7 linked regions of the Homo sapiens genome follow. The protein of the gene in region 1 purifies or fractionates together with the protein of each later gene. This does not show direct contact. Each region holds a gene or a part of one and is shown on either strand. Other genes may lie near its edges.

The links.
Region 2: the proteins of SPTLC1 (region 1) and MON2 purify together in Homo sapiens (affinity purification with mass spectrometry; one large-scale study listed by BioGRID and IntAct). This does not show direct contact.
Region 3: the proteins of SPTLC1 (region 1) and ARCN1 purify together in Homo sapiens (affinity purification with mass spectrometry; one large-scale study listed by BioGRID and IntAct). This does not show direct contact.
Region 4: the proteins of SPTLC1 (region 1) and NSRP1 purify together in Homo sapiens (affinity purification with mass spectrometry; one large-scale study listed by BioGRID and IntAct). This does not show direct contact.
Region 5: the proteins of SPTLC1 (region 1) and ORMDL1 purify together in Homo sapiens (affinity purification with mass spectrometry; one large-scale study listed by BioGRID and IntAct). This does not show direct contact.
Region 6: the proteins of SPTLC1 (region 1) and COPB2 purify together in Homo sapiens (affinity purification with mass spectrometry; one large-scale study listed by BioGRID and IntAct). This does not show direct contact.
Region 7: the proteins of SPTLC1 (region 1) and COPB1 purify together in Homo sapiens (affinity purification with mass spectrometry; one large-scale study listed by BioGRID and IntAct). This does not show direct contact.

Annotation. Positions count from the first base shown.
Region 1 is NC_000009.12:92,052,914-92,056,413, forward strand, and holds part of SPTLC1 (serine palmitoyltransferase 1), read right to left. Parts: intron 2,582-3,500; coding exon 2,492-2,581; intron 1-2,491. UniProt on the Homo sapiens protein: Component of the serine palmitoyltransferase multisubunit enzyme (SPT) that catalyzes the initial and rate-limiting step in sphingolipid biosynthesis by condensing L-serine and activated acyl-CoA (most commonly palmitoyl-CoA) to form long-chain bases.
Region 2 is NC_000012.12:62,536,326-62,539,825, reverse strand, and holds part of MON2 (protein MON2 homolog), read right to left. Parts: intron 2,676-3,500; coding exon 2,563-2,675; intron 2,225-2,562; coding exon 2,120-2,224; intron 1,731-2,119; coding exon 1,650-1,730; intron 1,575-1,649; coding exon 1,501-1,574; intron 1,412-1,500; coding exon 1,321-1,411; intron 1-1,320. UniProt on the Homo sapiens protein: Plays a role in regulating membrane trafficking of cargo proteins. Together with ATP9A and DOP1B, regulates SNX3 retromer-mediated endosomal sorting of WLS away from lysosomal degradation.
Region 3 is NC_000011.10:118,585,909-118,589,408, reverse strand, and holds part of ARCN1 (coatomer subunit delta), read right to left. Parts: intron 1-3,500. UniProt on the Homo sapiens protein: Component of the coatomer, a cytosolic protein complex that binds to dilysine motifs and reversibly associates with Golgi non-clathrin-coated vesicles, which further mediate biosynthetic protein transport from the ER, via the Golgi up to the trans Golgi network.
Region 4 is NC_000017.11:30,123,316-30,126,815, reverse strand, and holds part of NSRP1 (nuclear speckle splicing regulatory protein 1), read right to left. Parts: intron 1-3,500. UniProt on the Homo sapiens protein: RNA-binding protein that mediates pre-mRNA alternative splicing regulation.
Region 5 is NC_000002.12:189,774,340-189,777,839, forward strand, and holds part of ORMDL1 (ORM1-like protein 1), read right to left. Parts: intron 1,378-3,500; coding exon 1,226-1,377; intron 1-1,225. UniProt on the Homo sapiens protein: Plays an essential role in the homeostatic regulation of sphingolipid de novo biosynthesis by modulating the activity of the serine palmitoyltransferase (SPT) in response to ceramide levels.
Region 6 is NC_000003.12:139,372,648-139,376,147, forward strand, and holds part of COPB2 (coatomer subunit beta'), read right to left. Parts: intron 2,968-3,500; coding exon 2,821-2,967; intron 1,942-2,820; coding exon 1,842-1,941; intron 1,162-1,841; coding exon 1,019-1,161; intron 766-1,018; coding exon 566-765; intron 1-565. UniProt on the Homo sapiens protein: The coatomer is a cytosolic protein complex that binds to dilysine motifs and reversibly associates with Golgi non-clathrin-coated vesicles, which further mediate biosynthetic protein transport from the ER, via the Golgi up to the trans Golgi network.
Region 7 is NC_000011.10:14,479,312-14,482,811, forward strand, and holds part of COPB1 (coatomer subunit beta), read right to left. Parts: intron 1,787-3,500; coding exon 1,679-1,786; intron 1,595-1,678; coding exon 1,448-1,594; intron 404-1,447; coding exon 258-403; intron 1-257. UniProt on the Homo sapiens protein: The coatomer is a cytosolic protein complex that binds to dilysine motifs and reversibly associates with Golgi non-clathrin-coated vesicles, which further mediate biosynthetic protein transport from the ER, via the Golgi up to the trans Golgi network.

The sequences.
Region 1 (3,500 bases):
AAAACTGTGTGTCAAAGGACAGTATCAAATAAATGAAACAAACCCCCACAAAATAGGAGAAAATATTTGCAAATCATGTATCTGATAAACATCTAGTATCCAGAATATACAAGGAATTCTTTTAAAAACAAAAAAACAACCCAATTTAAAAAATGGGCAAAGCACCTGAATAGATATGTCTCCAAAGGTATACGCATGGCCAAACAAACAAACAAACAAAAAAAAAAACAAGAAAAGAGGCTCAGCATCATTAGCCATTTGGGGGAAACAGGATCAAAACCACAGTGAGATACTACCTCATGCTCACTAGGGTGGCTAAAACAAACCAACAAAAAACCCTGGAAAATATAAGTGCTGACAAAGATGTAGAGAAACTGTAACCCTGGTATATAGCTGATAGGAATGTAAAATGGTGCAATCGCTGTTGAAAACAGTATGTCAGTTCCTTATTAAGTTAAACACAGAATTACCATATAATCCAGCAATTACCCTGCTAGATATATACATAAAAGAACTGAAAACAGGAATTCAAACAAATACCTGTACACAAATGTTCACAACAGCACTATTTGCAATAGCAAAAAGGTAGAAAGAACCCAAATATCCATCTGTGGATGAACATATAAAACAAAACGTGGTATTATCCATGCAATGGACTATAACTCAGCATTAAAAAGGTATGAAATACTGATACATGGTATACAATGTTAATGAACTTTAAAAACATCAAGTGAATGAAGCCAGAAAGAAAAGGTCATATATTATATGATGCCATTTATAGGAAATAACCAGAAAAGGTAAATCCATAGAGACAGAAAGCAGATTGGTAGTTGCTGGGAGCTAGAGGGAGAAGAAAATGGGGAGTGACTGTTTAATGGGTTTGAGGTCTTCTTCGTGAGTCATGAAAAGGTTTTTGACCTAAAGTTGATGGTTGCACACATGGTAAATGTAATAAATGTCACTGTCCTGTACAATTTAAATTGGTTAATTTTGTGTTATGTGAATTTCACCTCAATAAAGGAAATCTCAATGGTCATGGTTTCTAAAAACAGTTATGCTGCTTTCACTATTAAAAAGCTAAGTTTTGGCCATGCGTGGTGGCTCACGCCTGTAATCTCAGCACTTTGGGAGGCCAAGGAGGGTGGATCACCTGAGGTTGGGAGTTCAAGACCAGCCTGACCAACATGAAGAAACCTTGTCTCTACTAAAAATACAAAATTAGCCGGGCATGGTGGCACATGCTTGTAATCCCAGCTACCTGGGAGGCTGAGGCAGGAGAATCACTTGAACCCAGGAGCCAGAGGTTGCGGTGAGCCGAGATCGTGCCATTGCACTCCAGCCTGGGCAACATAAGTGAAACTCCATCTCAAACAAAAAACAAAACACAAAAAAACAAAAAAGCAAGCTATGCTTTCATTCATATGCAATTCTACAAAAGGTAAAACTAATCTACAGGAATAGAAAGTAGATTAATGGCTGTCTGGGGCCAACATGGGTACTCACTACCAAGAGGCATCAGGAAGCTTTCTGGATAAAGTTTTCTTTCTGGATAAACATTGTCTTACATAAAAATATTCCGTATCTTGACTGTGGTGGTGGATGGCTGCAGTGATACAGATGTATATACATCTGTCAAAACTTATCAAACTTTACCCTTAAAGTAGGTGTATTTTATACGTTGATTTCACCTAAATAAAGCTGGATCTTAAAAGCTACGTATGGCCGACTCAGTGGCTCATGCCTGTAATCCCAGCATTTTGGGAGGCCCAGGCGGGCAGATCATGAGGTCAAGAGATTGAGACCATCCTAGCCGACATGGTGAAACCCCGTCTCTACTAAAAATACAAAAATTAGCTGGGGGTGTCTGCGCACGCCTATAGTTCCAGCTACTCGGGAGGCTGAGGCAGGAGAACTGCTTGAACCTCGGGGAGGAGGTTGCAGTGAGCCAAGATGGCGCCACTGCACTCCAGCCTGACGACAGGGCAAGACTGTCTTGCGGGGGAGAAAAAAAAAGCTAAAGCTAAGTTTTGGCCAGGTGTGGTGGCTCATACCTGTAATACCAGCACTTTGGCAGGCTGAGGCAGGAGGATCGCTTGAGCCCAAGAGTTTGAGAACAGCCTGGGTAACGCAGTGAGACCCCTACTCCACAAAAAAGGGAAAAATCAGCCAGGTGTGGTGGCATGTGCCTGTAGTCCCAGCTAACTCAGAAAGCTAAGGTGGAAGGATCACTTGAGCCCAGGAGGGTAAGGCTGCAGTGAGCTGTGTTCACACCACTGCACTCCAGCCTGGGCAACAGAGCAGTCTTGATTACTCTTTGAAGGCCAGCACTGGCATTCAGTGTTGTTCTTCTTCCCTGATCTGAGCAAAATATGCTTATGAGGCCTAATGCGCAAAGCAACGCAGACGTTATACACTAAAAGCGGTCATAAACAAAAGGCACATCTGTCAAATAGTCCAAATATTAAAATTACAGCTGAACATGGTTGCTTACCAATTCTGGAAGAGGACAAATAGTTCCAGTATTCATATACAATCCTTCTACTACAATGAAACGCCGAGTTACACGAGCCTTGCGAGGATTCTTTAAAAGAGAAAAAGCAGACATCTTACATTTCAGTAACTCTGAAGACAAGATCTGTTACATATTCCCCAGCACTTTCACCTTACAAGATTTATTCCTAAAAAAATATTCTGAATGAATTGAAAGCTCAGTGTTTGTGATGGGTTATTTTGAGATGAACAACAGTACTATCTTCTCTCAGACGTTTTTCAGCTCACAGCATTAGCTAGGTGACCCGCCACACACACAAACTAATTAGGCCCTCTGAGAATATTAAAACACAAACAAAACCCTCCAAACCTCCAACTGGGAAGGGGCCTAAGGGACTTTCTAAAGAAATGGGAATGTTTTACATCATAATGGGGCTGACATTCCTGGGTTACATGGGTATAATCACTGGTCAAAATTGTATGGCTGCATTCATGTGATTCAATGTCTGTCAATTTTACCCAAAACAACTATAATGAAGGTCATCATCATGAAGATGGGGTGAGGAACAGATGGCACAAGAATGATGTAATGCTGATAACAAAGCTGGGAGAAGGGTACAGGGGGCTTCACTATACCACTGTGTTTCCTTCTTATATGTTGGCATTTTTCCATAACAAAAAGTTAAAAAACTCAAACCGTTTTCCTTCACCTCCCAAAAAAAGGGGCAACCCTGTTCCCTCCTCACTCCCCACTGATGTATTATCGGATCAAGTAAAATTTGACTATGAGCTTGTCCAATGATGTTCCCAGGTGGTGGGGTAGAGAGGTCTCCTTTTCTTTTTTTTGAGATGGAGTCTCACTGTCACCCAGGTGGGAGTGCAGTGGCGCCATCTCTGCTCGCTGCAACCTCCGCCTCCAGGGTTCAAGCAATTCTCTGCCTCAGCCTCCCGAGTAGCTGGGATTACAGGCACCCGCCACCACGCTCAGCTGATTTTTGTATTTTTAGTAG
Region 2 (3,500 bases), on another chromosome or scaffold:
AGGCTGGTCTCGAACTCCTGACCACAAGTGATCTGCCTGCCTCGGCCTCCTGCAGTGCTGGGATTACAGGCGTAAGCCACCATGCCCAGCCATAATACATACTTTCAAACACCTGCATGTTTATATAATTATCTAGCTAGGTACTATAATATATGAAACTATGCTCTAATGAGACTTTCTTCACCAATCTTTAAATGAGTCATAAGAGCCAAGATAACAAGCCACAGTACCCAAAATTACACTTAAGGACTAGGCAGATGGCCGGGCGCGGTGGCTCATGCCTGTAATCCCAGCACTTTGGGAGGCTGAGGCGGGCGGATCACAAGGTCAGGAGATCGACACCATCCTGGCTAACACAGTGAAACCTTGTCTCTACTGAAAATACAATAAAAAAATTAGCCGGGCGTGGTGGCGGGCACCTGTAGTCCCAGCTACTTGGGAGGCTGAGGCAGGAGAATGGCATGAACCTGGGAGGCAGAGCAGTGACCCGAGATTGCGCCACTGCACTCTAGCCTGGGCGACAAGGCGAGACTCCGTTTCAAAAAAAAAAAAAGACTAGGCAGACAACATAATTTTGAATGCTACAGTTACATGTTATAGCTTTAAATTATATAAATTTTAGCTTTTAAATCATATTTTGGGTTATTTTCACTTATTTGTAAATAGTCAAACTATATTTATTGATTTTAAAATGTGGAAAGTATTTTGTTTAATTATTTCTAACATATAAATAAATACAACTGTTCCTGTGCTTTCCAAGTATAACAGAAAGTGATATTTTTAGTAGTATAGAAAGAAATGTTCTTGAATGTTAATATTCAAAAGTACCGTTTTATTCATTTAATCAATGAACAAATAAAAATTTAAATTTTCAAGATAAGGAGAATCATTACCTTTAGAAAGAAATGATTAGCTCCTTACTTTCCATCCCAATGAAAGCAAAGGAAACTGAGACAAACATTCTTTAATTTAAATCTTATATTACCCCAATCATAAATTGTAATTACAAGTATTATCATGACATTTTATATAACCTATAAAACTGTATTATATTATTTTATAAAAATATTTTTAAAATGTTCAGTATATAAGAGAAATGAACACAACTTAAAATCATATGACATATTTAGACATATCACAAGCCAAATCATGTCCTTTTTACTCCTTCGACAAATAACGATAAGTGGTAAAAACCCAACAGAGTATGGTTACCATACAATCTGAGTGTTAGTTCTACTAGTAAAACACTAAGATCATAATGGATGTACATCTTATATAACTAATGTATCATATCTAAAACAGAAAGGTAGAATATCACACCTTATTATTTCCATAGGCCATATCCATTGCTTCTAGAGACAAGGAGCAAAGTGCATTTATTAAATGATGCAGTGATACATCATCAAGATACCTAAAAAGGAAATGAAGAAATAAGACATCTTGATCTAAAATATATAACAAATAACAATGTTTTTATCAATTAAAAAAACTGACTCTTACTGTGAGCTTTCAAACAATCTTGAAAGTATATTGGAAATCACTGGTAAATCTGTCATCACTGCTGTTGTTAGAACCTGAGAAGAATAAAATTAAATGTAATATATGACACTTTGGGATGCACTAATTGGGTAAGAAAGACTAGAGCTTACTGTACTGGGTCCTTCTACAGCTCTCCCAGGTTTCAAGGCACCGCCACTACTAGGCTTTAATCCCAGAATCCACACAAGATGCTGTAAAATTAAAAAAAAATCAAAACAAATAACTTTACAAAAGTATAAAAGGTCCAATAACTAAAATTAAAATCAGTAGTAACTTCTAGCAACCAAAATTAAAATCAGTAGTAGGTTTTTAAAACCTAAAACTAAAATCACTAATTAACATTCATATAAAATAATTAATGATATCGAACATATGCAGCAGAGCTTAGGCCATTATGAGAAGCATTCCACCACTTCCTACAATATGAGTCACATCTTTTTCCCTTTCTAACTTCTCTTTTTTCATACTTACTATCTATTTTTTAGGCCTGTCCAAAACATCAAAATACATTGCTTAGTCTAACTGTTAGCAATTATATATAAAAACAACACTAATCTCTGACCTAGACACTTTTACATACCTGAAGAGTTGCCAAGACAAGTTGCCATGATGTTCCAAGAACAGCCCCATGGCAATGCGCCAAGTTAAGTAAAGTCCTCATACACTGGATATTTTTGGAAGTCAGCTATATTTTAAAAAGGATACATTTTCAATAATTGTTATGTATTCTTAAAAATTAAAAGCTTATAAAGTAGCATTAATGTGTTAAAAGATTTTTTTAAAGAAAAAATTAAGAAAAAGATTTGGAAGGTTTTATAAGGAACAATTCATTTGATTAAAAGTTGTATTATCATATTGGTTACAGTAATGTCAACTGCATAAACTAGTTTCTTCTAGTTTAAGAAAGTAGTTCTAGTAAAAGAAAGTAAATAAATGTATGACACATTTTGGCAAACACAAAGATAGGTACAACAAGTTTCCTTGATAGCTAATTGATAACCAAGAAAAATACAAGTACATTACCATTACTGTCCCTTGAGGCTGGACTGCTAAAGGTTGACCCACTGCCACAACTTGTTGGTGAGATTCACTTGATGGACTTATCATCATAACACTTTGGCCCTGAACGGAATATGCTAGAACACAAAGGAAAGCCTAAATAATTAAAATATATTTTTATATTGCATTTAAAGTAATGTTATATTTAAAGTTTGATTAAACCAAGTTTAGCCATACACTTATTTAAATATCAGTAATACCTAATATCTGTATCAAAACATTTAAAAAACTCATGAGGGGCTGGGCACAGTGGCTCACACCTGTAATCCCAGCCATTTTGGGAGGCTGAGGCAGGCAGATCATTTGAGGTCAGGAGTTCAAGGCCAGCCTGGCCAACATGGTGAAGTCCTGACTCTTCTAAAAATACAAAAATTAGCCAGGTATGTCGATGCACTTCTGTAGTCTCAGCTACTCAGGAGGCTGAGGCAGGAGAATTGCTTGAATTCAGGAGGCGGTGGTTGCAGTGAGCCAAGATCTGGGTCACTGCACTCTAGGCTGAGCGACAGAGTGACTCTGTCTCAAAAAAAAAAAAACAAAAAAACACAAAAACTTCATGAGGTACAAAAACCAAGACAAGTTAAGCAAATATTAAGTAATTTTCTATACAACATAAAATTATATAACTTTGGTAGATTTCTTCATAAGCAATACAGAACTCGAACACATTCTAAGTATTTTAAACATGTATCCCTGGTATGTTTTTTAATTTAGAGAGCAATACATTTTCAGTTTGAAAACTGAGTATTAGCATGTAATAACAACTACTTGGGAGGCTGAGGCCGGACTGCTTTAGCCCAGTTCAAGATCAGCCTGGGCAATATAGCGAGATCCTGTCTCATTAAAAAAGTATAAACAAAAAAACCCTAAATATTACACTGAAATTTATATTACATGTAACAAAC
Region 3 (3,500 bases), on another chromosome or scaffold:
AATGAATAGTAGGCAATGGTGAGAAAACAAACAACTGAAAAAACTTTCTATTTGTAAGTATTTTCAAGCTTAAAAAAATTAAAATTATACAAGGAAGACATATATACCCTTTTCCAGATTCACCTATTGTTAATATTTACCTCATTTGTTTTATAATTTGCACTTGTGTTTCTCTCTCTCTAAACATTATATATGTATGTTATACATTTGATTTTTTTTCCCTGAACCATTAAGAAGCAGATTATATACAACACGGCACTTTACCCCTAAATACTTCAGTGCTTATTTTATAAGATTAGGGATATTCTCTTACATAATCAATCACAGTACCATTATTAACTTCACAAATTTACACTGATAGTTTTTTTAGCTTTTTGTTGTTGTTGTTTTGAGATAGAGTTTCACTCTTCTTGCCCAGGCTGGAGTGCAATGGCGTGATCTCGGCTCACTGCAACCTCTGCCTCCCGGGTTCAAGTGATTCTCCTGTCTCAGCCTCCTGCGTAGCTGGGATTTCAGGCACCTGCCACCACGCCCGGTTCATTTTTGTATTTTTACTAGAGTCAGAGTTTTACCATGCTGGCCAGGCTGGTCTTGAACTCCTGACCTCAGGTGATCTGCCTGCCTCGGCCTCCCGAAGTGTTGGGATTACAGGCGTGAGCCACCGCACCCAGCCTGTTGTTGTTGTTTAAGAGACAGATCTTGCTATGTTGCCCAGGCTGGAGTGCAGTGGCTATTCAGAGACACAATCACAGTTCACTATAACCTTGAACTCCTGGTCTCAAGTGATCCTCCTGCCTCAGCCTCCTGAGTAGGAAGGACTACAGCCATGTGCCATCATGCCAGGCTAACAATGATACAATAATTGTATCCGATCTGTCAACCATATGTCAATTTCGTCAGTTGACCTAATAATATTTTTAATAGTAGTTGTGATATTATGATATACATACATACCGGTTTTCATCCATGGTTCCTAGCTCATAACTCCCATATCCCTTATTATACATAATGTTGGGGCACTTTAGGCCTCAGGAGCAGCCCTTAGAAAAAAGAACCTCTCTTTGACCTTCTCCTGCCCTCCTTTCACCAGCCCAAGGCAGGATCTCCAAAAGGGGTCCTGCACCATATCCTGGAGGAAGATTAATGCTGCACAGAGAGGCCAAGAATTTGGACAGGCCTTGCTGTGTTTCCCCACTCAGCCTATCAGTATTAGGTCATACCCTTGCCCAGTCACATTTCTGCATGCCTGTCAATCATGCCTATCCAATGAAGTCTCCATAAAAGGCTCAAGAGGACAGGGTCTGGGAAGCTTCTGGACAGCTGAACACATGCAGGCTTACAGGAAGATGAACAAGGTCTCATCTATTTTCCAGGAGGGTGGCGTACCCCAGCTCCCTGGGGACAGAAGCTCCTGTGCTCAAGACCCTCCCAGACCTTGCCCTATGTATCTCTTCATCTGGCTGCTTATTTGCATCCTTTAAAATGTCCTCTGTAACAAACTGATAAATGTCAAGTAAGTTTCCCTGAGTTCTGTGAGGTGCTCTAGCAGATTAATTGAACACCCCAGAGGGGGTCGTGGGAGGCCAAACTTGAGGTCAGTAAGAAGTTCTGAAAGTCTGGACTTATGACTGGTGGGAAGGAAGAATCAGTCTTGGGGGACTGAACTCTCAACCTGTAGAATCTGAGGCTATTCCCAGGTAGATAGCATCAGAATTGAATTGAATTGGAGGACACCAGCTAGGTGTGACCGCTTGATGTGTGCGGAAAAATCTAAACACACTTGATCACAGAAGTCTTCTGTGTTCATTGTTGCTGTTGAATGAGAAAATAGAAAAAACAAACAGTTTGAGTTGTTTTTTCTACACTACATTAGTAGAGGATCCAGTCTAGGGTAAGGTATTGCGCATTTAGATGTCATATCTCTGCAGTTTCAAATAAGGAGATTCTTATCTCCAAAATAATTAAATGAAAAATGCAATTGGAAGACGTGTCTAGTTTTACTGCTTTGCATAAAAGGGGGAAAAATAGACACACTGTATACATGTTTTTTATTCATCTGTATATCACAGACCATCCCCCTTAGAAGGATACACAAAAAACTCTGTTAATACTAGTTGTCTCCAAAATGAGAAACTGGCATGGCTGAGTGAGAGGAAGACTTCTGACTGTTAACAACTTTTGAATTTTGTACTATATGAATGTATAATCCAATTTTTAAAAGATTAAAAACTGCTGCTGCTAGAGGCAAGTATTAAGTACAATCTATTCATATTCAGTAATAGACATACGTTTGGCTGGATGAACTACAGAGGCTACAAAAAATATTTTGTTATCCTACCATGTTCTTTGTTCCAACCTCTTAGGTCTTCCTAGAAACAAAGGCATCAGAGTCAAGACCATAAAGGAGTGCATCTTAAGACAATGCATGGTACCATTTTACCTTCACAAAAGTTTGCTCTGTGCTCAAGAGGCAATTTATCATTTAGAAAAAAACAGTGTCTCAAATTCTCTTTAATATGTGATGATCTCCAACATTTTTTTTTTTTTTTTTTTTTTGGAGATAGAGTCTCACTCTGTCGCCCAGGCTGGAGTGCAGTGGCACCATCTTGGCTCACTGCAACCTCTGCTTCCCGGGTTCAAGCAATTCTCCTGCCTCAGCCTCCTGAGTAGCTGGGACTACAGGTGTGTGCCACCACGCCCATCTAATTTTTTGTATTTTAGTGGAGAAGGGGTTAATTTTTTGTATTTTAGTGGAGATGGAGTTTCACCATGTTGCCCAGGGTGGTCTTGAACTCCTGAGCTCAGGCAATCCGCCCACCTCAGCCTCCCAAAGTGCTAAGATTACAGGTGTGGGCCACTGCACTCAGGAATATCTTTTTAAAAGTGTGAAGCCTCTGTCTCACTCAAAGCAACCACTAGGAAGAGCACAGCGGCTTTAGTGAATCAAGAAATTTATCCCAATGTAACCCTGTTCATTTCATACAGAACAGGGCATATAAAGAGTAAATACTTGGCTGGGCACGGTGGCTCACGCCTATAATCCAAGCACTTTTGGGAGGCAGAGGCAGGCAGATCACTTGAGGTCAGGAGTTCGAGACCCACCTGGCCAACACGGCAAAACTCTGTCTCTACTAAAAATAAGAAAATTAGCCGGGTGTGATGGCGTGCACCTGTAATCCCAGCCACTTGGGAGGCTGAGGCAGGAGAATTGCTTGACCCCGGGAGGTGGAGGTTGCAAGATCGTGCCATTGCACTCCAGTCTGGGAGACAGAGCAAGACTCTGTCAAGAAAGAAAGAAAGGAAGAAAGAAAGGAAAGAAGAAAGAAAAAGAGTAAATACTCCTCTTTTATGCACACCTGATAAAGGTATCCTCCTGGTATTATCTTTCACTTGACCTCAAAACCATCAGCAACAGTAGAAGGTCTGGCTTCAAGACGAGAAATCTGAGTCACGAATATGTGAACTTGATAACTACCACTTAAAAATGTCACCAACCAGTA
Region 4 (3,500 bases), on another chromosome or scaffold:
AGAGCTTGAGACCCGCCTGGGCAACATGGCGAAACCCTGTCTCTACAAAAAAATACAAAAATGAGCCGAGAGTGGTGTCTCGCACCGGTGGTCCCAGCTACTCAGGAGGCGGAGGCTAAAAGATTGCTCAGGCTGGGAAGCGGAGGTTGCAGTGACCCAAAATCGCACCACTGCACTCCAGCCTGGGCAATAGAACAAGACTCTGTTTCAAAAAATAAATACGAAGCTAGGCTAGATGGCCAGATCCTAACTCATAGAGCTCATACTTTATCTAGTACAGTGACAAGACATGTATGTAAACAACTTATAATGCAAGCTTTTAAAAGCTAAGTGCAATAAGAAAGGTAAAGAGTGTAAGAAAAAGGAAGAGATTCTTTCCAGTGAGGAAAATCAAAGAAGGTATCTTGAAAGAAGTAGCTTTTGCGCTGGGTTTTGAAGGATGGCTATAATTTGGACATTAAAAAAATGGGGAGAAGACTTCCAGTGTAAAGAAAAGCAGAGCTGTGAAAAACTGCAAGCACGACAGTGTACTTTTTATGGAGGAACAGTTAGGAGAAAATGCTAGTAAGCATTCTAGGGGCAAAGCATAGAGAAGGTTTTCAAAGTCAAGATTAGCACTTTAGATTTTAAATATAATTACGTTCAGGACTGAGGATCAGTGATTATAACTGTGCTTTAGGAAGATCAATCTGACAATATCATAAATAATTTGAGAAGACAGATAATAAGGAAACTAGTTATGAAACAATTAAAATAATCCAACAGAAAAGAATGAACATGGTGACAGTGAGACCGGAAAATTATGACAGCAAAACCACTCACTTATGAATTGATAGCAGCATCAGAATATGCTTTCTTACTCATATGGTGTAAAAACTTTCACCACCCCCCCAACCATCTCTCCCACCTTGAACAAAATGATAATTATTTCTAACTTATTCTGACAATTTGAAAAAGAGGATCTACTAGGCCACGCATGGTGGCTCACGCCTGCAATCACAGCACTTTGGGAGGCTGAGGCAGGCAGATCCCTTGAGGCCAGGAGTTCAAGACCAGCCTGGCCAACATGGCAAAACCCCATCTCTACAAAAAATACAAAAATTAGCTGGGCCTGGTGGCGAACGCCTGTGATCCCAGCTACTTGGGAGGCTGAGGCACAAGAACTGCTTTAACTTGGGAGGTGGAGGCTGCAGTGACCCGAGATGCCGCCACTGCACTCCAGCCTGGATGACAGAGCTAGACTCTGTCTCAAAAAAGAAAGGAGGAACTGCTTAAATTATAATTAAAAGGGATAGACTACCACTTTCCCACTAAACTAACCCTGGATGCAAGCACAAAATGAAAACAATTCATGTGCTAGGGCTCCCTCTGCTGGACCACTAGAGAAAAAATCTGATCTTAAATGCTGCTGAATTGATAAAAAGAACAGATAAATTGGCTTCATAGCAGCTCCTTTCCAGGTGTATCAAATGCTTTCCTCAGGAGGGGAATAAGAAATTATCTTTCTTCTATATTTTCCACAGCACTAATAATTTAATTGTTGCTTAAATTGTTGACTAATTATGAAAGAGATTTTAATATATAGTCAAATCACACAAATTTTTTTTTAATCTTTTTTTTTGAGACGGAGTCTCGTTCTGTCACCCAGGCTGGAGTGCAGTGGCTTGATATCAGCTCACTCAACCTCTGCCTCCAGGGTTCAAGTGATTTTCCTGCCTCAGCCTGAGTAGCTGGGATTACAGGTGCCCACCACCATGTCCAGCTAATTTTTGTATTTTTAGTAGAGATGGTGTTTCACCATATTGGCCAGGCTGGTCTTGAACTACTGACCTCAAGTGATCTGCCCACCTCAGCCTCCCAAAGTGCTGGGATTATAGGCCTGAGCCACCATGACTGGCCAAATCTCACAAATATTTAAATATACTCAATAAATTTACTTCTCAGTAAAAAGACAAGCTGGAATTAACCAGACTGATTTTTTTATAGGTAAGGAAATTATTCTAAGGAATGGTTTTATATTCCGTTCACTAAGAAATAAGCTGCAGCTCCCTTGTCCATTGGCTTTGACCGGAAGGTAGGAGAACCTTTCTCTCTAAGACTGAATCTCCCAAATGTTTCTGCTCCTTCTGGACAAGCCCAGTTCCCACCAGGTAACTCTGGTCCCCAGCCTCCAAGAACCATCTCCTACTTGTATCCCTCTATATATCACTACTTGCTTCTTACTGCTGCTAATCTCTCGACTGCCTCATCATGCCCTTTTTGGCATCTCAAGTCTTCCATCACCTATGTTAACAATTCTCTGTATTAAAGTCCCACTACAGGAAGGAGGAAAAGAGGAAGAGCAGGAGGGAAGGAGAAAGCTAGCACAAAATGGCCCAGGCCTATCTTTGCTGACTCTAGTGTACCCACTGGCTAGCTAACACCAGCCTCATTTCACAATGGAAAAGAAACAGCAGTAACATCAAAAAACTCTCTAGATTACTTGTGTAAACCCATCCTTCTCAAACTGTGGTATGTTGTGGTCATTTCATATCGCTTTTTCTTTTTATTTTAGAGACAGGATCTCCCTCTGTTGCCCAGGCTGGAGTGCAGTAGCACAATCCTAGCTCACTGCAACCTCAAACCTGGGCTCAAGCAATTCTCCCCACCTGAGCCTTCCAAGTACCTAACATTACCAGTGCGTGCCACCACACTTTTTTTTTTTTTATAGAGACGGGGTCTCGCTGTTGCCCAGGCTGGACTTGAACTCCTAGCCTCAAGCGATTCTCCCACCTCAGCCTCCGAAAGTGCATGAGGGTACAGGCATGAGTTATCATGCCTGGCCATGATGCTTTGTGTTACACAGTATACCAGGGTGCTTTAATGTGAAATGCAAGATAAGCATGTCCAATCCTTCTGTTGTATCCATAGTAAGTGATTTTTATAATTATTTGTATATTAAACCACAAGGGTGCTAGAAAATTTAATGGTAAATAGACGATGGACGATTTAATGGTAAACAGTCTTCAACAAAAGGTGCTGGGACAACTGGATATCCATATGCAAATGAATGAAGTTGAACCCCCTCTCTCTTATTATTAAAAAAAAAAAATTTCAAAATGTATGAAAGACCTAAACTCAAGGACTAAAACAACAAAATTCTTAGAAGAAAACATAGTGGAAATCTTTGTGACCTCGGATTAGGCAATGGTTTCTTAGGTAGGACACTAAAGCACCAGCAACAGCAGCAAAAAATGTATTTCCTCAAAACAACTTTTGTGCTTCGAAGGATATTTTCAAGAAAAGTGAACAGACAACCCACAGAACAGGAGAATATACTTACAAACCATATATCTAATAAGATACTAAAGGAACTCTTACAATCCATAATAAAATGACAACCCAATTTAAAAAGAGGTAAAGCCGGGCACGGTGGCTCATGCCTGTAATCCCAGCACTTTGGAAGGCTGAGGCAGGCAGATCACAAGGTCAGGAGTTCGAGACCAGCCTGGCCAACATAG
Region 5 (3,500 bases), on another chromosome or scaffold:
ATTATATGGGACTAAATCAATTCAAAATTTCCTCAAAGGGCTATAAATTAAGGAAAAAGAACCCCATTATTTTATGATCAGTTTATTCCTTTCACTTTAAAAATGCCTTCCCTTACTTAAATATCTAAAACCTAGTCTCTCTTAAGTTCTAACATAAGGATTTCCAACACCTCCAAGAAGTCTTTTGTGCTATGCCAGGCTGCACTGACTCTATCATGGACATTATTATGTATAGGCTAGATGGTACAGAGTATTAAGATATATGAGCAATACCTCTATTATGTGTAGGCCACTGTACTTACTGTGGGATTCAAAGCAATCCATGCACTTATAAATTCTTTGGAGAGACAAAATAAAACATATATACATTTTTTTATTTGTCAATTATACCTCAGTAAAGCTGGGGAAAAAAGGAGGAGGCATTTCAGGTAGGAGATATGATTTGAACTGATTTGAACAAAGACAGAAATAGGACTACACATGAAATATTCAAGAAATGCTGCTTAGAAGGCCAGGTAGGAGTTGGGTGGGGATAAAATATTTACATCAAGGGAAAAGGAGGTAAGAACTATTTTCTGGAAGGCCCAGAACATCAGATAGGAGAAAGAAATTAGATACCAGATACAGGTTACATGCTATCCAGGTAGATTATTATCTCATTTATTTCTTACAGCATTAGGATTGAATTAGGTATCACTAGCTAGAATTTTATATATGAGCAAACCAAGCTGGCTGAGTGATATATATAGGACTCCACCCAGGTCTATCCTATAATGAAAGCCTGACCTACTTTTTTCGAAACCATACTCTTTCCCAAGGAGTCTGAATATCTTAATAGGATAGGTGGCCAGTGAAATTCTTCTCATTATCTAAATCATTGCTTAAGGAGATTAATCTGACAGTGCAATATAGAATATGATTATGTATTTTGTGTCCTTATATGAAACCTAAGGACGGGAGCTGGAATACATTTGACCTGTATATCCTAAATGTCTAGGTGCACTGATTAGCATGTAATATTGTCTCCGTATATGTACTGACTGAAGTGAAAATTAGTTTATTATCAACTTGTTAAAAATTTTGTCTATATTTTATGTTCTATCCGAGGTGCTACTTATTGATAGAAGTTTGCAACAAAATATGTTTCTAATTCCAATTCAATCTGATGAAAAGATATCTTCCTCTTATCCAATCCTCCTCATACCTAAAAATTTCTGCCACTTACAGAATTATTGGAGAAATTGTGAAAAACTTCCGTGAAGATGTAAACTGTACTCCATAGTCCAGTTGTTCCCAATGAGTTAGGAGCCTTGCTTTACCCTGGTCAGGAGTTTCGAAAGGTGTTCCTTTCACTGCATGCAAAAATACGTACATCCCCTGGAAAACAAGCAAGGGGTTATAAATGATCAATATTAAATACAAAATTAGTCTTTGTCAGTAGCATTAACGAGGTTCCAAGCTGTTTGTGAGAGTGTGTGATTTAACTGAGTTCGTTTTAAGCTTTCATATAATAGTGAAAGGCTGTAGCCAGTTTCTTTATAATAAAATAGAACTTTCTGGGGTATAAAAATATTAAGTGAGAATTGGTAAAAGGTCAACTGAAAGTAACCTGTTTGCATTTCTATTCGTTAAACTAAAAATAATTATCAGGGTAGCTTCATATCTTTACATTCAGATTTTCTTACACTTTTCCTATTAGGAAATAGGATTACTTTTTCCCCAATGTACAGGAGGTTTTTCTTCAGGGTATATTAGTAAATTTGATGATACTTAAAAAATGATAAAGACATACAAAGTGGTAGAAAACAATAAAATGATTAAAATCTATTGGGAAAAATAGTTTTGAGATATTTAATATGATGACTGCCTTTGCCTTAATAGTTCTCTTCCAAAGCAATAAAAATAGTTTGATATAATAGGTATAATGTTCCACTCAATTCCCTTTTTAAATCGCTATTGTGCCTCAATAGCATTTCTTCTGAAGTCAGTTTTAAAAACTCAAAGCAAATAACATTACTAAAAGCCATTCTGTCAGATCATATGTCTAAACATATAATTTTTTTTATCAATAGGGTAGAAAAAAACCAATCTATAGATTTGGTTTCCTTGAGATTATGATACCCATTTAGACTCATAGGCAGTGTTTCATTCAGGATCACTGCTTGAGGCACTTTATGTAAAGGGATAATGCCTAAATATTATCATGACACAAAGTTTTTCCTTCTAGACGCCACAATGTGATGTCATTTTTCCTACCTCTACTTTTAATGATTATATAGAAAAATTAGGGATTTGAAATTTTATATGATACCAACTTAACCAAGCCCTTCCTTTCAAGGCTTAGTCTACTTCCTAGTTATTCCAGTAGGCAATTCAGAAGTCGTTTAGCTACAATAACACGTAAGCTATGGAGGAAAGGACTCATGTTCAATTGGATTTAACCCATCAAACATTTAATAGGTGGCTTATATGTACAAGACATAGGACATATATGCACATATGAAATTGAATGAGATGTACCCAAGCCTTGGAAAAATTCAATCCTCCAAGAGATGATAAGGAAAAAAAATGCATAAACAGCTAGAAAGTAGGGCAGAAATTGCTATCAAAGGTACAATCAGAATACTCAGCAAATGGCAGGGGAGGGAAAGGTTCCTTGTTGCTGTGCCAAAAGTCTTGATGCTACTTCATTACCTCATTCTTAAAGGTTCAGCTCAAATAACAATTCCTTAGAAAAACCTACCTCATTAGTAATAATTAATCTCCTCTTTATGTAGTTGTATACAATTTTATTGAAAATACGATTACAGTACAATATATCATGTTAGAGTTGTTTGCATGATGTTTGTTTTCCCATTAGCCTGAATACACTCGGAATAAGCACTGGGACACCGCAAGACATTAGACATTGGACACTTCCAACATTAGAAATGTTGGAAGATGACATTACGCCAAGGAGTATTTATTCTGTAAGCTCTACGAAACCATTTTCATATGGACTTTAAAGTGAATTATAAAACAGAAAGTATATGTTTTCAAATCATCGGGGGTATAGGACCCCCAAAAAGTTAAGAACATCTATTCCAGACCACATAGATATTAGAATATAAGAGAATAATCATCCTCTCATTATTTCCTTCAAACCATATGTACTTAACTAGTGTTTAGAATATCAAAACAGTTTATTTTATACATCTTTTCAGTGAAAAATAATAAAATCTTATCTGGCCATATATCTACTGCCCCAATATTTTTTAAATTGTTTTTATGTAAAAATGTTTGTGATTATTATTCCTCCATTAAAAGAATTAGAGAACAAAAGTATGTAGCTCATGCTTAGTCCTTACTAAATACCTACTGAATCAAAATGAATCATTCATTTTTAAAGCTGGGCCAAGAATCCTGTGAAGCATTAATACCTCTAAGGGTGAGGTAGCACTTAATAAAGCAACCACTGTAGGTTTCTACTGTACGGTTCAGAAAGGCAAATATACTGTATT
Region 6 (3,500 bases), on another chromosome or scaffold:
TGTAAAATAATTTTAAAGCTCCACAGGTTTAGACTTCACTGTGCTAGAAACTCCTCTCTCACAAGATGTTTGGTGACTTACAAATCTTAAGGGAGAAATTCAACTGACAGTTCGAATTACAAATAAGAAACAGAATTATTATCAATCCCAAAACTTTTTCAAAAGACACATATCTCAGAGTCAGGTTTTCTTCTTGAAAGAGCAATGAGTCAGCAAGCATTTAGAGAGGGCACCTACTAAGTCTCAGCATAAGACATACTCCTTGCCCTCAAAGGAGCACACAAAAACACAAACTCAATGCATGCGAAATAACAGGAAACTACTATTTAACTATTCAAAATTGTGTGGTATAGAACAAGTCCAGATGGGAAACATGCTCCATCTTTTGTGCCAACTTGATCAAGTGGCATGGCTGACTGCAGCTGTGTTGAGGATTGTGAGGCCAGGGCAAAAGCACATTGAGGAATGATTAGAGATGCCAACCACAGGGCAAGAGTGGACTGTGGATCTGCAAACCTGTTCTAACATACACAGAAGCTGAGGGACAATTTTGGTGATGGCTTACCGCCCATTAGGATTGTGCTGAATAGTCTGAGGGTATATTTCACAACTGCCCATATCCTTTACTGCCAGTGGCAATCTTTCACCATCTTTAATTTCAGCATCTCCCATTGCTTTTAGGTTGGCCTGCTGGACTTCTGAATGCTTGGCCCAAATTATCTTTCCATTGGCATCCATGGACATGGCAGGTTCCTCCCGACCAAGCTGAAAGAAAGAAAAATAGCTCTCAGCAATGAAAAGGAAAATGAATAAAACCAAAACAAAACAGATTATTTTTTTCACCTAACAGAGAGCTCCATTTCCTTTCTTCCACTTTAAATCTTCATTGCTTAATGTCTAGTGCTTAATGAAAGAAGTGCCAGTTTTATAAAACTGGTTACTTGGAAGATGACAGTACTAAAATACAAAGAAAATGGTTTTGCCTATGTCCACCTACTGAGAGGGATAGTATAATTACCTTAACAATGATGCTCCCTTCATCATAGCCCAAAGCGACATTGTTTGACCCTCTTAGACTGGCCACGCACCATACCCTCTCCATTCCATAATTCAGTGTGCTCTCAAGCCGGTAGGTGCTTGAATGCCAAATACGTACTGTTCCTAAAAAGAACAATGTAAATACTCCCTTTTGATACAAACATCCGACAATAAACTGTGTCAGGTGAAAGAGACCCATAGAAGTCTTTCTATTCAAACAGATAACACTTCCTGGCAGCTTAATGACCAATTTTTTGACCTACTGTCTTTAAATGATTTTTAAAAGCAACATAAACATAACACATAACATATAAGAAACAAAAACTAAGAATTACGATTTTAAACATGAAATAATAACAGGATTTCCTGGGTAAAGTGTTTCCTATGTGCCAGATGCTTTCTACCCACAATTTCTTCTCACTATAATTTTATGAAGCAGATATATATGTTTCCATTTCATAATTTGCCCAAACACACATTCATGACATAACAGAGCCTGATTTTGAACCCAGGTTTGTTTGACTCCAAAGCACATGCTTTTTCAGTTTCTCTTTAGGACAGCTGACGGTCCTCTTATTTAAGTGACAGAATCAAAATACATGAGAATGATGACGATGATGATGATGATGATGATGATGATGATGAAAATAATGCCCCTTTACTCTTTTATAGCTTAAGTCTGGTACTTTAATAAAAATATCAAAATCCTTGGAAACCTACAATTATAATGCAGAGACATTACTTGCTTTAAATGCCCACTGAGTAGTTACTAGCACAGGAATAAACATACCCTTCTAACTTACCATCTTCTGAACCTGTGATAATGATTGGCAACTCAGGATGAAAGCTGGCACAAGACACATTTTGGGCATGTCCTTCCAGTGTCTGCACACATGTTTTATTCTGTAATTAAGACATAGAAAACATGTTTTATTAATGAAAAACATGTAACCAGCCCGCCCTTAATTTTCTCAGTGTACAGATACATTATAAATGATAGTAGTCATGAAAATCTAAATAATATCCAATATAGAAATTTTTGAAATAGGATGATCTTGTTGTATATATGAATATTTTATCTAATTACTTTGTAAAATAAATGTAAATGTAACTATCACATTTAAAGAAGGGGAAAAAAACCCAAGAAGGCTTTTGTCTGAATATTATTCCCCCAAATTCTCAGGATAATAGATTTCCCCCTTAAAACTCACACCTACCATCACTGGCTAAGTAGACAGTGCTGCTTTAGCCTTTAATATTTTTATTCTGGATTTAAGTACAAATCTGAAAATGTTTCAAGGAAAAACTGACTTTCTAGACCTCATTTTATTAATTGCTTATGGGAACTTTTGATGTGGAAAACAAAAATATCAAAATATAAGAAAATCTTAGAGATAGGAAGCATGTTAACAAGAATTCATAACTAGGTTTACAAGAGTACGATTTGGCAAAATGGTTGGTAATTGTTGATCTGCTAGCTTACAAAAATGAATAGAAGTCTATCAATGAAGATTATGGAGGATAATTCAACATTAAAATGTTAAAATTTCTAAATGCAATTATGAAATGAAATATGAACATGTTGGTATTTTATTTTTAAAATCTTGATATGCATTGTTTTCATTTTTATGGAGAATTCTGGGAACACAGTTTAGGTGCAAATACTGATACCTTAAGTTATTATGCTGTGAACAGTTTTCAACAACCCAAGTCTTAACTGTCCTATAAGAAATAGTAAGAAACATATCTAACATATGGAAGTAAGGTTATGAAAAACTGTACCTGATAATCCCATATTTTAACAAGACGGTCATCTGCACCTGAAATGAGGTATGGCTTGTCCCCACCACTGTAGTAATCAATGCAATTCACGCCTTTCTCATGTCCTTCCAAAGTGAAGTTTGGTGACGAAGAGCCCAACTGCCACACCTGCAGAGAGAAACAGCATCGGCCAGTCAATATGGGGCCTTGCTTTACAAAAGGCAAATCCACCATATTTCTGACACATTATGTAAAATGCCAAAGCCCAGGAGAGAAGAGCTATCAAATTTTATTTTTTATCCTGTTTGGTTTTTGTTCTTTCTCATTTTACTTGAATTTTCAGGGAGCAAAATCACTATGGCGTTCTTTAAAAGAAGTGCCAATTTCCAGGCTTTATCTCTAGAGATTATAAGTCAGTCAATCCACAGTGACGCCCAGGAATCTAGATGTTATGAAATTATTTTATTATAGATTTAATATACAGCTCATGAAAGTAGATTTAGTAAGATATATTAAAAGTTGCTGGGTGTGGTGGCTCACACCTGTAATCCCAGCACTTTAGGAGGCCGAGATGGAAGTTATCACTTGAGCCCAAGAGCTCAAGACCAACCTGGACAACACAGCAAGACCTTGTCTCTACAAAAAAGTAAAAAGTAAAAAATTAGCTGGGCATGAAGGCACACGCATGTAGTCCTAACAAC
Region 7 (3,500 bases), on another chromosome or scaffold:
TTAGTTACTTTAAGATTCACAATGTTTTAGAGAAAATCAGAATAGAGACCCTGAGCTAAATCACTCCTAAAAAAATTATTTTGGGCCATTTATTATAGACTAAATGAGAGTGGAGTTAGCGAGATGCTTGTTGTACAAACTTGTCTTATTTTGGCTTGATTGTCCTCTCCATTCTATTTTCTATCAACTGACCCTTTAAAGATAAAAACTGATAAAATGCTTACTTGACCTTACATTTAAATGTATTTTAAACCTACTTGACAGATTTAATAGCATGAAAGACTTCAAGCATCTTCTCAACAATAAGCATTCTCAGGTTATCAAAGCGCTGAATGGCTTCACGAACAAACTCCAAGACATCAGCAGCTGCTGCTTCGTTGTTGTCACTGAGAAATTCCATTAACTAAAAGAAAAAAAAAAAAAAGAAAATGGAACTAACAATTTTCGAAAAGAAAATTATCTAGGACAAGAAATAAATTAAAAGAATGTAATTCTTTTTTTGTTTTCTAAGAGACAGGGTCTTGCTTTGCTGCCCAGGCTAGAGAATAGTGGCACAATCATAGCTCACTGCAGCCTTGAACTCTTGGGCTCAAGTGATCCTCTGGCAGCCTCAGCCTCCCCAGGAGCTAGGACTTCAGGCATGACACTATGCCTAGCTAATATTAATTTTTTTGTAGAGACAGGGTCTCCCTATATTGCCCTGGCTGGTCTTGAATCCCTGGCCTCAAGTAATCCTCTTGCCTAGCCCTCCCAAAGTGCTCGAATTACAGACATGAAGTGCCATGCCTGACCCTTGTAATTCTTAATAATTTTCAAATACACAACAAAATGTAAATTGAGAGACAAGTACTATTATGTAAACAAAGTCACAATGGCTTTTCCATTTTATGTGCAGCAAAATTTATTTTAAAATTCACTATAAAAGATAAGCTAGAGATCCAAAACTCCAAATAAATAAATGAATTCGATCCTCCTAAATTGTAACTAAAATCATTTTAGAGAGAACTCAAGAGCTCAAAGGCAAAAATCAAATTATAATAACATACCTCACTTATCTGACAGTGACAGCAAAATATTCTACATATGTGAATTTTTCCTATAACTGATTCCTTTAAGAGCTAAAGCTATTTAAAATAAATACCTATTTGCCTTACTGAATAATATATATACACAGCATAATTTTACTTTAGGTAACTGTATCATCAATTAAAATAATATGCAAAGCTTTTTTTTGGTCACTGTTTTTGTTTTTTTGATGAATATATAAGTGAAAGAAGTCAGTCCTCACCCTTCTGAGTTTAAAGGTAGAGGTAGATATAAAGATCACTTCTCACCATGAGATTTAATGGTTCTAGGCAGCTGAGATTTCTGGAGTTTGTCAAATAACTATATTTTTTAAAAAATTCTTTTAGATAATTTCAAAATTAAAGTCATCAGAATTACATACCACAGGAATAACATTTGCAGCCATATCTGGAAATCGGACAGAACAGGAATGCAATGTTCGCACTAGGAGTTGTCTGTATTTGTCAGTATCTTCATGCTCAGACACATTATTTGTTTTTATCACTTCCTTCTTCAGGACAATAACCAGCTTATAGAATGAAGTAAAAATAAGTGAGAGTTACATCATATTTGGGCCTGATAGCTACAAAGTGCTGTCAGAGTTTCCTTTTACCTCTTCAACATTTCTAGAAGAGACAAGATCCAGTGCTAACTGCAGAGTTTTCTTTCGTACTTCTAAGTCTGGTGTGCTCAATACTCTTAGGATATCCATAACCAGATCCTAAAAAAGAAGAAAAAATCAAGAATTAACACCAATCTTTCTGGTCACAGGAAAAAAATCTTCACTGCAGAATGGTGGGGTTTATCTATCATCACTTTAATTCTTTAATCAATAACAAAACCACTAGTGGTGGAAGAACTAGATAGTTTGGGTCTCCTGATACACTGCAATATGAAATAATAGCACATGACACATTCAAACTGATAATGTTTACTTTGACTCTGTCAAGCTAAAGCTAAAGCTCCAACTTACAGTTTATAGAAAGTAACAGAAGTCAAAGAACAAGCTAAACAACGTAAGAAAGTAGCCATACACATCCAGAAAGAGGGGCATTTTATAGTATTACTGGTCTGGTCTCTTCAACAAATCAGTGTCATAAAAAAAAGATACTGTCCAAAATTAAGAGACTGAAAGGGCATAACCACCAAATACGATACATGGTCACAAAATGGGCAAACTAAACAAAAAGGGCTTTTGGGATAACTGGGAAAATCTACATATAGACTTGGTATTAGATAACATTCATAAATTATTAACAATTTCGTTAAATGTGATATTATTTGACTCCATAGGAAAATGTAACATTTAAAAGATGCACACTTAAAAACAATTCGAAACTGATAAAAAAGTTCTAAGAGTGAACTCCTGTATATCCTTCACCTACATTCACCAGTTAATATCTTCCCACATTTGCTCTTTTCTTTTTTTTGAGATGGAGTCTTGCTCTGTCACCCAGGCTGGAGTGCAGTGGCAAGATCTTGGCTCACTGCAACCTCTGCCTCCTGGGTTCAAGCAATTCTCCTGTCTCAGCCTCCTGAGTAGCTGGGACTACAGTTGCACACCACCATGTCCAGCTAATTTTTGTATTTTAATGGAGACAGGGAGGGTTTCACCATATTTGTCAGGGTGGTCTCGAACTCCTGACCTCAGGTGATCCACCTGCCTCAGCCTCCCAAAGTGCTGCGATTTTAGGCATGAGCCACCACACCTGGCCCACATTTGCTCTTTACTGCTGATAATTTTAGTGTATCTCTCTCAAGGGTAAGGATAATTTCTTATATAACCACATTATAATTATCAGAGAATTTAACACTGATCAATACTATTAACTAATATACACACCATATTCATATTTCTCAATCTGTCCCAATAATGTCCTTCATAGAAATTTGTTGTTGCTGTTGTTCTGATCCAAGATCAGCACTGCATTTACCTGCCATGGGGTTTTATTTTTATAACCATTATTATTCTCATGGATTAAACAAATATGGTGATAATTTTCTAGAATCAGATCACCTTTTATTCTCAATTGGTATAATAATTTTCCACGAAATGTAAATTATATTCAAATTAAAATGAGTATGTCACTGTCGCTAAGAATAGTCAATACAGTACAAACCGAAAAGATAAAAAAATATAATACTGATTCACTTTAGAAAAACATTTTTTTTTTTTGAGACAGAGTCTCACTCTGTTGCCCAGGCTGGAGTGCAGTGGCACGATCTCAGCTCACTGCAACCTCTGCCTCCTGGGTTCAAGTGATTCTCCTGCCTCAGCCTCCCAAGTAGTTGGGATTACAGGCGCACTTCACCACACCCAGCTAATTTTTGTTATTTTTAGTATAGACAGGGTTTTACCATGTTGGCCAGGCTGGTCTCAAACTCCTGACCTCAGATGATGTGCCCGCCTCTGCCTCCCAAAGTGCTGGGATTAC